Linked DNA regions of Homo sapiens. The protein of the gene in region 3 interacts with the protein of the main gene of each other region in a pairwise test. Each region holds a gene or a part of one and is shown on either strand. Other genes may lie near its edges. The genes, in order: TBX3, SMAP1 and PRR20B.

The links.
Region 1: the proteins of PRR20B (region 3) and TBX3 interact in a two-hybrid assay, tested with the Homo sapiens proteins (one large-scale study listed by BioGRID).
Region 2: the proteins of PRR20B (region 3) and SMAP1 interact in a two-hybrid assay, tested with the Homo sapiens proteins (one large-scale study listed by BioGRID).

What each region holds. Positions count from the first base shown.
Region 1 is NC_000012.12:114,677,628-114,681,278, reverse strand, and holds part of TBX3 (T-box transcription factor TBX3), read left to right. Parts: intron 1-132; coding exon 133-400; intron 401-1,306; coding exon of another isoform or gene 1,307-1,366; intron 1,367-1,627; coding exon 1,628-1,774; intron 1,775-3,622; coding exon 3,623-3,651.
Region 2 is NC_000006.12:70,730,323-70,733,973, reverse strand, and holds part of SMAP1 (stromal membrane-associated protein 1), read right to left. Parts: intron 1,597-3,651; coding exon 1,463-1,596; intron 1-1,462. UniProt on the Homo sapiens protein: GTPase activating protein that acts on ARF6. Plays a role in clathrin-dependent endocytosis. May play a role in erythropoiesis.
Region 3 is NC_000013.11:57,146,221-57,150,339, forward strand, and holds the start of PRR20B (proline-rich protein 20B), read left to right. Parts: upstream 1-1,267; 5' UTR 1,268-1,481; intron 1,482-1,635; 5' UTR 1,636-1,654; coding exon 1,655-1,706; intron 1,707-2,727; coding exon 2,728-3,341; 3' UTR 3,342-4,119.

The DNA.
Region 1 (3,651 bases), on a different chromosome or scaffold from region 3:
AAACATGTAAGCTTATCAGTCACAATATAAAGTCTTAGACTTGGTTTCAATATTATGTGATACATAGGAAATCAAACCCAAGATTACGGGTGGTTTATCTTTCTTTTTCTTTTCTATTCTTTCGTTTTATAGGCGAATGTTTCCTCCATTTAAAGTGAGATGTTCTGGGCTGGATAAAAAAGCCAAATACATTTTATTGATGGACATTATAGCTGCTGATGACTGTCGTTATAAATTTCACAATTCTCGGTGGATGGTGGCTGGTAAGGCCGACCCCGAAATGCCAAAGAGGATGTACATTCACCCGGACAGCCCCGCTACTGGGGAACAGTGGATGTCCAAAGTCGTCACTTTCCACAAACTGAAACTCACCAACAACATTTCAGACAAACATGGATTTGTAAGTTTCATTGCTCTCTTCAGTAAAATTTTCTCCTCCTTCACTCAGTCAAAGGCAGTGCTTCCCATTTCATGAGTTTCAGCCCAGACTTCTCCTTTGCTTCTCCCTAAGCATAGCAAACTTGTCCTCGTCTGGAAAAAGGATTCGGGGTGTTTCTCTCCAAATAATGGAAGGCCTGGCGTTCTAAAAGAAATGGGGCAAGAAAACTTACCGGCTTGTGTTCTATAGCAATTCCAGCTCTTTGGTAGATTCCTGACCTGAGAGTGAAGTTAAAAACCATTTTTTAAGAGCTAAAATCAATTTCAAGGCTATGTATTCCTAAAGGATTTGTTTTGTTTTAAAATATCATACTTCTGTTTTGAAACCAGTGATATTATTTTCTCAGGAGAGTTTACGTTTCGGAGCCTTGACTCTGTTGGTTAAATGGTGTGAATACATTTTTAAAAACTCGTTCTTTTACTAAAAAAAGAATTGGGCTTAGGTGGGAGTCCGGCTTACCCTAAATGAGGCTTAGATCTTCAGAAAAAAATGGTTTGTGTGTTGGGAGTGTATATATGGATTCAGTGACAGTGCTTAGAAACTTAGAAAACTTTCATTGCTTGTAGATATCAGGCAAAGGACCTTTTGCGCCTTTTCCTACCCCTCCCCAACATTTCAATAAAATAAACAGCGTGATAAGCAAGGAGTAAGCAGAAAGATTAGGCCCAGGAAGACGCGAATGGCGCGGAAATATCTTCAGCGGGCAGGAATTGCATTTGAAGCCCTTGATTTGATTAAGGCATAAATATTCCTCTCTAGAGTTCAGCCTTTCAGGGCTTTAAGTGGATTGGGCTCGTCAATTAGTGGGCGCTTAAAGTACTGAATCATTTTGTAAATTAAAATGCATGTTTTTCTCTATCTTTTAAGACTTTGGCCTTCCCAAGTGATCACGCTACGTGGCAGGGGAATTATAGTTTTGGTACTCAGGTAGGCTAGGGTTCAAGGTATGAATGATCCTTAGATGGTGAGGGTGGGGGGGGCCCTTTGGCAACTGAGGAGCAATTTGGATTCTCCAGAAGATAACATCTGTGGAGCGAAACGTACCCAGGGGGTACTCCAAGGAGGTGGGCTCGGTACAAGCGTGGTACCCTGCGGTGGGGAAGATTTCAGCCTGGCAGGGGTCCTAAGATCCCGTTTGTTCTGCTAAATCCTTGTTTTATGTATGTCTCCTCTTCCCTGCCCCTGCAGACTATATTGAACTCCATGCACAAATACCAGCCCCGGTTCCACATTGTAAGAGCCAATGACATCTTGAAACTCCCTTATAGTACATTTCGGACATACTTGTTCCCCGAAACTGAATTCATCGCTGTGACTGCATACCAGAATGATAAGGTAAACTCAAGGGGCTTTCCTTTTTAATGGTGATATTTTGCCTTCCCCTTAAAAGCTGCTTTAAGTCAGGATGAGAAAGTTACAAGAGAGTGGAGACGAGAGTCTTGAGTTGTCTTTTGTGATTTGTGGAGCATTTGGGGGGAAAGGACAATGACACCTCGAGGAGACAGAAAAACACCTTGACTAGGTAGGAACAATGCTGAGCAAAAAAACGCCATACTAATTTTGCCACAGAGAAACTCCTAGAACTGCTGTCATTGATGCCACCCACTCCTCCCCCCCTCTTGGGCTTTGTCCTGTCTGTTTTAAGGTTCATCTTCTTCCCCTTGGGGAAGAAGGATCAAGAAGTCACATTCAAAAGGAACCAGCTAAAAATTTAAGGCAAAAGCCATTTGGGATCCTGGGAGGAGAATCCTAGTAGAGACCAGCTTTTCTCCCCTAGCCAGAAATCCTGAGTAGCTGGTCTGGTTTTTATTACCTTTTATGCTGCTGTGTTATGATGTGTGTGTGTGTGTGCATGTGTGTGCATGCATGCGTGTGGTTGGAAAAACCTACCCTGATCACAGGGTCATATTAATCGAGTTGTCTGAGGCTTTTGAGTTGGGGTGGCCAAAGTCACCACTTCATTTGAATTCCCCCCCTCCCCCAGGCCTGAATCTGGAGGTTAGAAGGATCCCCAAAAGGGAAAGCACCTGATATCTAGAGCTATGGTGGCCTGAAGGTCATGGGCACAGAAAAAGTGACCCTTACTGCTGATTCACCAGTTCCCAGATTGGCTGTTAGCAGTTATGGGGTGGGAGGAGGGACTGAAGACCCCTGCTCTGCAATCCTGGACTTCAAAGAGAGTCCATTTTACCTGACAACACACTTCATTTTGAACTCACTGTCATTGTCACTGTCCTTGGGTCCTCTGTGGACTTCATGATGGGGATGTTCCAGCTAAATTTCTTTAGTGTGAATACCAAAACATGATCTTCTCTCCCTGTGAAACCTGAAGTCTTCAATAGAGCAATTTATTCCAAGAACATGAATCCAACCAAGGGTCCCCCTTTCCACCTCTGAGTAACTCTGTGTATATAACTTCTTCTTCCCACCAAGGGGAAGGGATTTGAAAGATTACACACTATAGCATTTTTCTCAAAGTGCAAAATGCATGTGCCCTCTAGACCCAGAATCCTGTGAAATGAAGTTGTTAATGTAATAATAAAATGTAGCATTTTTGATCAGACAAAAAGGCCATGGGCCTTCTCCACCTAATGGCCATGGCAGAGCATATAAATGAAAACAGATGTTTCCAGTGGTCATTCAGTACTGTAACTGTCAATATTGTAATTTCCTCAAACCACCCCCCAGGCAAAGAAAAAAAAAATTAAACTCACTCCCGCACTCACTCCCGCACAAGGGTAGTGAAACCCCATAAATCATTTATTGGATTCATGGAAAAGGAGTGTGTGTGTGTGTGTGTGTGTGTGTGTGTGTGTGTGAAGGGAGTATGCTATAATTTATGATTAATTGCACTGTATAAAAATCAAAATGAAAGCATAATTTTAAGATCTACAGGTTTTCCCTCTTGATGACTTTGACAACACTTCCATGTCTAAACCCAAACTGTTGGCTGCCCAAAGAAAAGAATTTCTTTGAATAATTTCATCCCCAAATCCCTGGTTTGGCCTCATATAGGAGATACAAGCCCTGCCACAGTTTCCTTATTATCTCCTTTCCCTGGCATATCTATATGACTTCTGTTGGCAGTCACATCTCTAGACTTGTTGAGTTGGGAAAAACACCCTCAAAACATTCTAGAAAATGAGAACAATGTCTCTGTCTTGCTTGTGTCTCTTCCAATAGATAACCCAGTTAAAAATAGACAACAACCC
Region 2 (3,651 bases), on a different chromosome or scaffold from region 3:
TGCCAAAGAAAACCAGTGAACTGCAGCCCTCTGATTACAAAATTCTACTCTAAGCTATACAGCTGCCCATCTCAAATAATTTGCTATTCATTTCCTCTCAACAACCTAATTGAGAAAAATATTTCTGAATAACTGAACTGTTGAAGGATCTCGTGTTTTATCCTTAGTTTGAAATAAGCCATTAAAAAAGCAGGATACTTCGGTCGTGAATGCTTTGTACCTCCATAACCCATTACAAACACCAAGTTATACTGTCAAGCTACACCTCACACGTTTCTTGAAAAAGAGTTACAACATCAGCTGGGCATGGTGGTGCATGCCTATAGTCACAGCTACTTGGAAGGCTGACATGGGAGAATCGCTTGAGTCCAAGAGTTTGAGACCAGCCTGGGCAACATAGCAAGACCCTGTCTCAAACAAACAAAAAAAGACTTACAACATCATGACATCTGTTACCATATTCTACAGAGATACTAAGAACACTGCCTTACAGGAAGTGTTTAAAAAGCTCTGCTTCTTTGATATAACTAGTATGTTTTCTCCTCAAGGATCTTGAAAGTACATAAAAGATTGCATTTCCCTTTATGCTCTAGCCAGCGAAAAGCTCAAAAACTAATTTAAGATGGAACCAAATAAATTATGCTTGACTTTATAGCCTGAAGATCTCCATTCTGTTTTTCTACCTTTACTTCACCCCATTCATGTAAACTATTGGGTTAAGATTCTGAGATGTATCACTGAGTCTCAACCACATATATTTATGTATTTAGCACTTCATAGTGACTTAAAAGTAATTTCAAAAGGGCATAAATAAGTGGTGTAACTTCACTGTGAATTACATAATAAGACCAGTAGAAGTACTCATTTTTACAATAGTGGCCAACCTTAAAGATAAAAAGTAAGATTTTGAGAATTTAAGACTGTCACATTGGGAAAATGGCAAACTTTTAAAACTACAAATCTACCTCTAGCAGAGTTAAACCACTCATAAGTAAGTTTAGGTTGGTCATAAGAACATTTGTTCACTGGGTTGTCTTACAACTTCTGGGCCTTGTCTGAAAACTAAGAACACCTCAGAACAGAAAGGAAATTACTCAAGTCCATTTTTAGGCTACAGGTGGTTTTTTATTTTATCTTTACCCAGGCTCCCTCCACTGAAAAAAAAATAAAACAAACTATGGAATTATACTGGCAAATTTTATCAACAAGAGAAATGATACTTTAAAAACACTTTAAAATCAACATTTTAGAAAGTATAGATTAAAAACTGACTTTACTATAGACACAAAATGAAATAAACATCTGTGAACTGAAAATTCAAATATTCCAATTTTATACGTGGCATATGCCATTTCAACATACAAAACTACTTTTCAATGTTAATCCTTAGATGCAAGAAGGGTTAAATATTTTTAAATCATTTTAAATATTTTAAATAATTTCTTGGTAACGTCATGTTTACCTGTATCTGTTCTGCTGTCCATTGGTCTAGGTTGACTGATTTGACCCTGGATATATGAACCCCAAGATTTCTATGAATTCCAGCACATCTGATGCAAATAAACACACCAATATTCCAGGAAGCCCATCGAGGACCTAATTTAGAAGAAGAAACCACAAAAAAAAGCAAATGTTAAAAACAAAAATAAACATAACAGCATATTAGAAGCATTCTCGGTTTTATATAATTATAATGGAAGCTTACAGAAGTCACATGCTCAAATTTTCAAATGGTACTGGCGGCAGTCTGCTAAGAAGACATGTGTCTTGGCAATCTTTAAGAACCTTATTGATTTTACTCATTTTGCTTTCCTAGAAACTTCCCCTCCACTCTAAGATTTTAAAACTAATTTATATAAACAGCTTCTTCACTTAGCATATTTGAATCAGGAATAGTAATAATACCCTACTGTAAAAATAATTTCTTTATTAAATGCATAAGATATGCACAAGATTAACAACAAATAAAAAATCAAAGACATTTCAAAAATTAAATGTAGAAATTAATAAGAAAAAGACAACCAGCCCAATGCGAAATAAGCAAAAAGATATGAATGAATAATTCACAGAAGAAATTTATGGCCAATAAGCATGAAAATATGCACAGTCTCACTGGTAATTAGTGAAAGTGCTCTTTAACTCTACAGTTACTTCCATTTTGCACCCAACATTCTGGAAAAAAAAATTTTTAACTACTAATTGTTGGCAAGAAGGGGAAACAAGGACTGCTTCAAAAAGCGTTGCATCAACATGGCTAAATCTCAAATATAACACTGACATTAAAAAAGGTCACAGATGAATATATACAGTGTGAAACCATTTACATAAATTGAAAAATATGTAAAATAATAGCATACTGCATATTAATTAAATGTATCTACAAATTTCGTGAAACTGAGGCAGGTAACTGGTGGTAAGGAAAGAGGATGTGATCAGGGAAAAGTTCACTGTGGGCTTGGAGAGCAATAGTAGCACTCAATTGCTAAGCTGTATGGCAAGAATATAAACTTTTGTTTCAGTAACATATAATACGCATATATGAACTGAGGTGTGCTACAAAATGTTAGTTCTTCAGTTCATGGTCAAAAAGTTCTGAAAAACACTGCCAAAAAACTCACATATGAATACAAGAATACAAGTCTTAGCTGTACAAGTCTTCATACCTTTGAATATATTCTTTCATAATAATTTTAAAAATTGCTTCAGATTTTTTCACATATTGCTTGTAAAATTAATAAAGTAAAAATGGAAAAATAAAAGCAATATCTGGAAAATATGCCAAATATTCAGAATCATATTACTAACAGACTTCTATAAATTAGTTGATTATGAAAAATGTATGTATATAGTAAGAGATATCAATAAAAATCAAGTAGCTGGACACAGTGGCTCATGCCTGTAATCCCAGCACTTTGGGAGGCCAAGGCAGGCGGATCACTTGAGGTCAGGAGTTTGAGAACAGCCTGGCCAACCTGGTGAAATCCGGTCTCTACTAAAAATACAAAAATTAGCCAGGCATGGTGGCAGGTGCCTGTAATACCAGCTCCTCAGGAGGCTGAGGCAAGAGAATCACTTGAACCTCAGAGGCAGAGATTGCAGTGAGTCGAGATCCCGCCACTGTACTCCAGCCTGGGTGACAGAGAGAGACTCTGTATCAAAAAATTAAAAATTAAAAATAAAGCTTTTTTTAAACATAGCCTTCTGTTTTAAGTACATGCTGTTTATCTAAAGGTGACACTGCTCTACACAACAACATTAAAGCTAGTAAGTACAATATAGTAAAATTAAAAATAATGCCCCCCCAAATTCCTTAATTACACAGGAGGAAGATTATGCACATGCAACTTATCCTCAAATATCCTGCTTTTAAATTTGAGAAATTACATCTATAAACTGGCAAACATACATCTGGGACATCTGTGACAACTCTAGATAGAGCTGCCTCCCCCAGTTACTTTCCACTCTGTCTCATCATTTCTAACACAACAATTTACAACGTTATCTATCTGTTTTGAAGCTTACACATTAAGGTAAATAGTTACAGAGCAATAGCTGGAGGGTTTAATTATTTTTAGCAAGTAAGTCTCAAACTAAGAAAGGTTAAACAGATATGCAGTGGGCCAGAAACAGTGGCTCACACCTATAATCCCT
Region 3 (4,119 bases):
GCGCTCACCTGTAGTCCAGCTACTCCGGAGGCCGAGACAGGAGAATCACTTGAACTGATTCTCCTATCTCAGCCCCCCCCCCCCCCCCGCCCCACCCCAAGTAGCCGCAGCGAGCCGAGATGGCACCGCTGCACTCCAGCCTGGGCTACAGAGCGAGAACCCGTCTCTGTAAAAGACACAAGGATGCAAACCAACCAAATAACCCACTGTGGGATCCCCTCCAGCGTCCTGCTGTGTTTCCCGCTGTCTTCCTCCACCCGTGAGTGCACCCACAGCAATAAAAGCCAGCGGTGTGGGTCTCACACGCATCTCCAGCCCCGTCGCCATCGCGCTGAGCTCGACTCTTTTTACAAAAGGCCACTTGACATCCTCACTTGGCAGTTCAAAAGCCCCTTCAACCAGATGTGCGCAAGCCAAGCTCCGCAACTTCCCGTTCAGAGCAGGTTCTCGGTCCACCTCTGCCTGAATGAACCGGCGGGCTACCAAGGCCGCAGTCTCTTCCTCAAGGGCTGTCCACACTGGGTCTCGCTTTCTCTTGGAAATTTCTCTCCCACCAGGGAACTTTCTCCTCCTCTACCTCCCTGAGTCTCAGTCTAACAGCACCCTGCGCCCAACCCCGAGGGCTGCAATAGCCTTCTTGCCTCTCCTGACTTATTCTGCGGACCCTGGGTTGGCGCTCCTTCACAGCCAGGCTGGTCGTTTCTGAAATGTTAACCCGCTGCCGGACACCGTTCCACGGTTTTCCGCTGCCTTGGAACAAGACCAGCTCCTGCGCGGACCCTGCCTCCACCTCGCACCACCTCCGGGCCTGGACTTGGCCTCCCGTCCATTCCCAGAATGTGCCGGGCTCCCTTCCAGTCCGGGCCTCAGCACACTCTCTTCACTCCCCTTCCTCCCTCCCTGCCTCTCCCAACCCGGTTCAGGATGACTAATTTCAAACGTTATGTTCCAGATTTCAGCCCAGATATCCCCGCTTTGGATGCTTTCCTTGACCATGCTCAGATCTAAGCTAATCGCATCTTCCTGTCAGCCGCTTTCAGGGCACCACACCTCATTGTGCTGACACTCAGAGGTCATTATGCAATTTTTTTTCCTCGATGATTAGATTAATCAATCAACCACGGACGTCTAGAAATGGCGGCATCTCAGAAGGGCCCCCATTTGACTGGCAGGGGACTGGCCCAATGCGCCTCGCAAGCCCAGCCAGGCCCGCCCCAGCCGGCCCCCCTCTGACGACGCCTGTCCCTTACGCGACTGCCTTGCTGCCATATAAGAGGGACGGCGCTCGGCCTCCAGCAGTCGGCTTTCTGCTGGGCTCGGAGCCAGAACCTGCTGCGTGCTCCCTCCAGACTCCCTGGCTGCGGGTGGACTACCTCAGAGCTACAGCGGTGAACCTGTGGACACCTCCGACTCCTCGGGCCTCTCTTCGTCGAAGAGTCTCCTAATTTTCAGATCTCCGGAGCCAGCTGTGGGAAGATCAGGTGTGTGTCTGGGGGTCCCGGAGGCGTGGACGGATCTCGGGTGGGTGCAGTTGGGGACAGAATCCTCATTCCCCTAGAAAGGCCACGGCCATCCCCCTGCCTTGTCACCTCTGTCTTCCTAAATCCGTTCTTGCTCTCTTGTTTTTCTCCCCAGCCCCTCCCGCCGATTGCTCATGGAGGAACCAAGGCCTTCGAAGCGACTTCGCTCCATGGCCCCTAATCAAGGTACATCAAACGCCTGCCACTCCTCTCTTTTTAATTTCGTCTGTTCCCCAATTCTTCCCCAATGGTTGACACTCAAACTCAATCAAGCATTCTCTGTTTCACCTTCTCCTAGCCTGCCTCAACCTGGGCTGCTTGTTGGAAGTCAGCTCCCGGGTTCCACATCATCTGGGAAATTCCTTTCCCTCTTCCGAACCGTAATCCCATTTCCCAAATCTGAGATTTGCTGTTGTTGTCGCTGTTTCCTTCTGTTTAGTTTTGTATTACTGTTTCTCCGTAGCAGAGCGAGTCCTCACGCTACGTCTTGATCTATGATAAACCGGTACTTCCACCTTGTTCTTTCCCGGAGGAGTTGGAATTTTCCGGCTGTTGCCACGTTGTTCTCCAAAACATTTCCCTTCATACGCTGAGTGTCCTAAATCTTTTAATCTTGTCTAGTTTGACAGATGCATAACAATAAAGCATCCACTGAAAGGAAATTCTTTAACATCTTGCTTGTCTGAAACATCTTCATTCTCCCCTCCCAGATTCTTCAGCGAAACTTCGGTTGGACAGGAAATTTTAGGTGGGAAATTCATTTCCCTTGAAATTTCGAAGACATTTTCTGTTATGTTCTAGACTGAACTGCTGCTTTTGAGATGTCTGACTTTTGAGACATGTGGAATCCTAGCCCTTTCCATGTGACTTTTCCTTTCTCTGTCTCCCGCTCTCTAGAATCTGTTAGAATCTTCTCTTTTTCCTCAGCACTCTGAAATTTTCTGGTGAAATGTCTCAGCCACAGCATACCTCTAATTCTCTTATATTTCATCCTTCTTTCCATCATTTTAGGTTTTTGCTTTGTTCTGTGGGAGACCTTCTCAACTTCATTCTCCAACTTCCGTGGAGAGTTTTGTTTCTTCTCTCACAATTTTAACTTCAGAAATCCCTCTTTTCTCTGAGTATTTATTTGTAAAAGTATCCTATAACTGCTTGACGGGTGAAGTTCCTTCTGTCTCTCTCTGCTCACGCTCCGCTTCTCTTTTAGCCTCAGGTGGGCCTCCTCCAGAGCCAGGCTGCTGTGTTGCGGACCCTGAAGGCTCCGTGGAAGCAGATGGGCCCGCACAGCCAGCCCAACCCGCAAAACCCATCGCTTACGTGAAACCCTTCAGACGGCAGCCCCCAGCTCGCCCAGAGTCACCCCCTCCTGCAGAGAGAGGCCGGCGCCGGGGAGGAAGCCGGCGGCCAGGGCGAGGCCGTGGCAGAAGGGCTGGGCCCCGCGGGGACGCTGGCCAGAGACAGGGGGCAGAAGGCTTGATGGCACCGGACGTGCACATCCAACTGGACCACCATGGAGAGCCAGGCCACCAGGGGGAACCGGAAATCACGGAGACCGCAGCCTTCTCCCTTTCTGAAACAGGTCCTCCGCCTGGAACTGTGCAGGAAGGCCCTGGCCCCGACGTGGCGCAACCTGAGCTGGGGTTTCAGGAGCCGCCCGCTGCTCCTGGGCCTCAGGCTGTTGACTGGCAACCCGTCTTGACCCTCTATCCCTGCATCGGGTTTAGGGCTCTGGGTGACTCAGCGGTTTTACAAGTCATTCAAACCCCCCAGGGCACCTACGTGCAAGGGGTCCCAGTGTTCCTCACCGACATTGCGTATTGACCACTATCTGCCACCCACGTTGTTCCCAGCCTCCCTTCCTTCCACCTGGACGTTCCCCCCAGCCCCACTTCTGCTCCACTCCTCCCCCGACTGGACCTGAAGCCTGAGCTTCCCCTGAACTTGGAGTACGCAACTTACAACATGCAAGCTGCCAAACACCCTTTCTGTACAAGGCGATTGGAATGGAACTGTCATGTACAGTGAAAGTACACGTCACGTTTTTCAGCCAAGAAGAAGCCAACCCAGACAACCTGGAAGAAGTGGGATGCAACAAGGATCACTAAGCATGGAAATTAGGAAACTGTATTCTTAAGTCCAGAGAAGTACGATTCTGGAAAAAGGATTGATGACCTAGAATTAAAATTCCAGAAGACACTCATATAGACATGTGGGACATGCGAAAACTCAGAAGGAGCTAGAAGTTACTAAAGTGCTTCTCTAGTGCCTGGAGACGATAGACTGGCTGAATATAAGAGCAATAAAAATCTAGACTGACACATTTTTAAGTCTCAACGTGGGTACCCTTTGGGAACCACTAAATGAATTGGAATAGAAGGTAAAATTTCAAACAGATTGAGGAAAAAGGGGATCAAAGGACATGTGACGAATCAGACAAAAGGTGTTGGGGTGGGGGGGGGGGCGGTTAACGGAAGCAAGGAGAGTGCATGACTCACTGGAACCGCTAAACCAGGAATCAGTAATTTGACGGCAGTGTCCTTGGCTTCCTCCTGGCTTTAATGGGAATATTTTGAATGTTTCACCATTAACCAAGATGTTG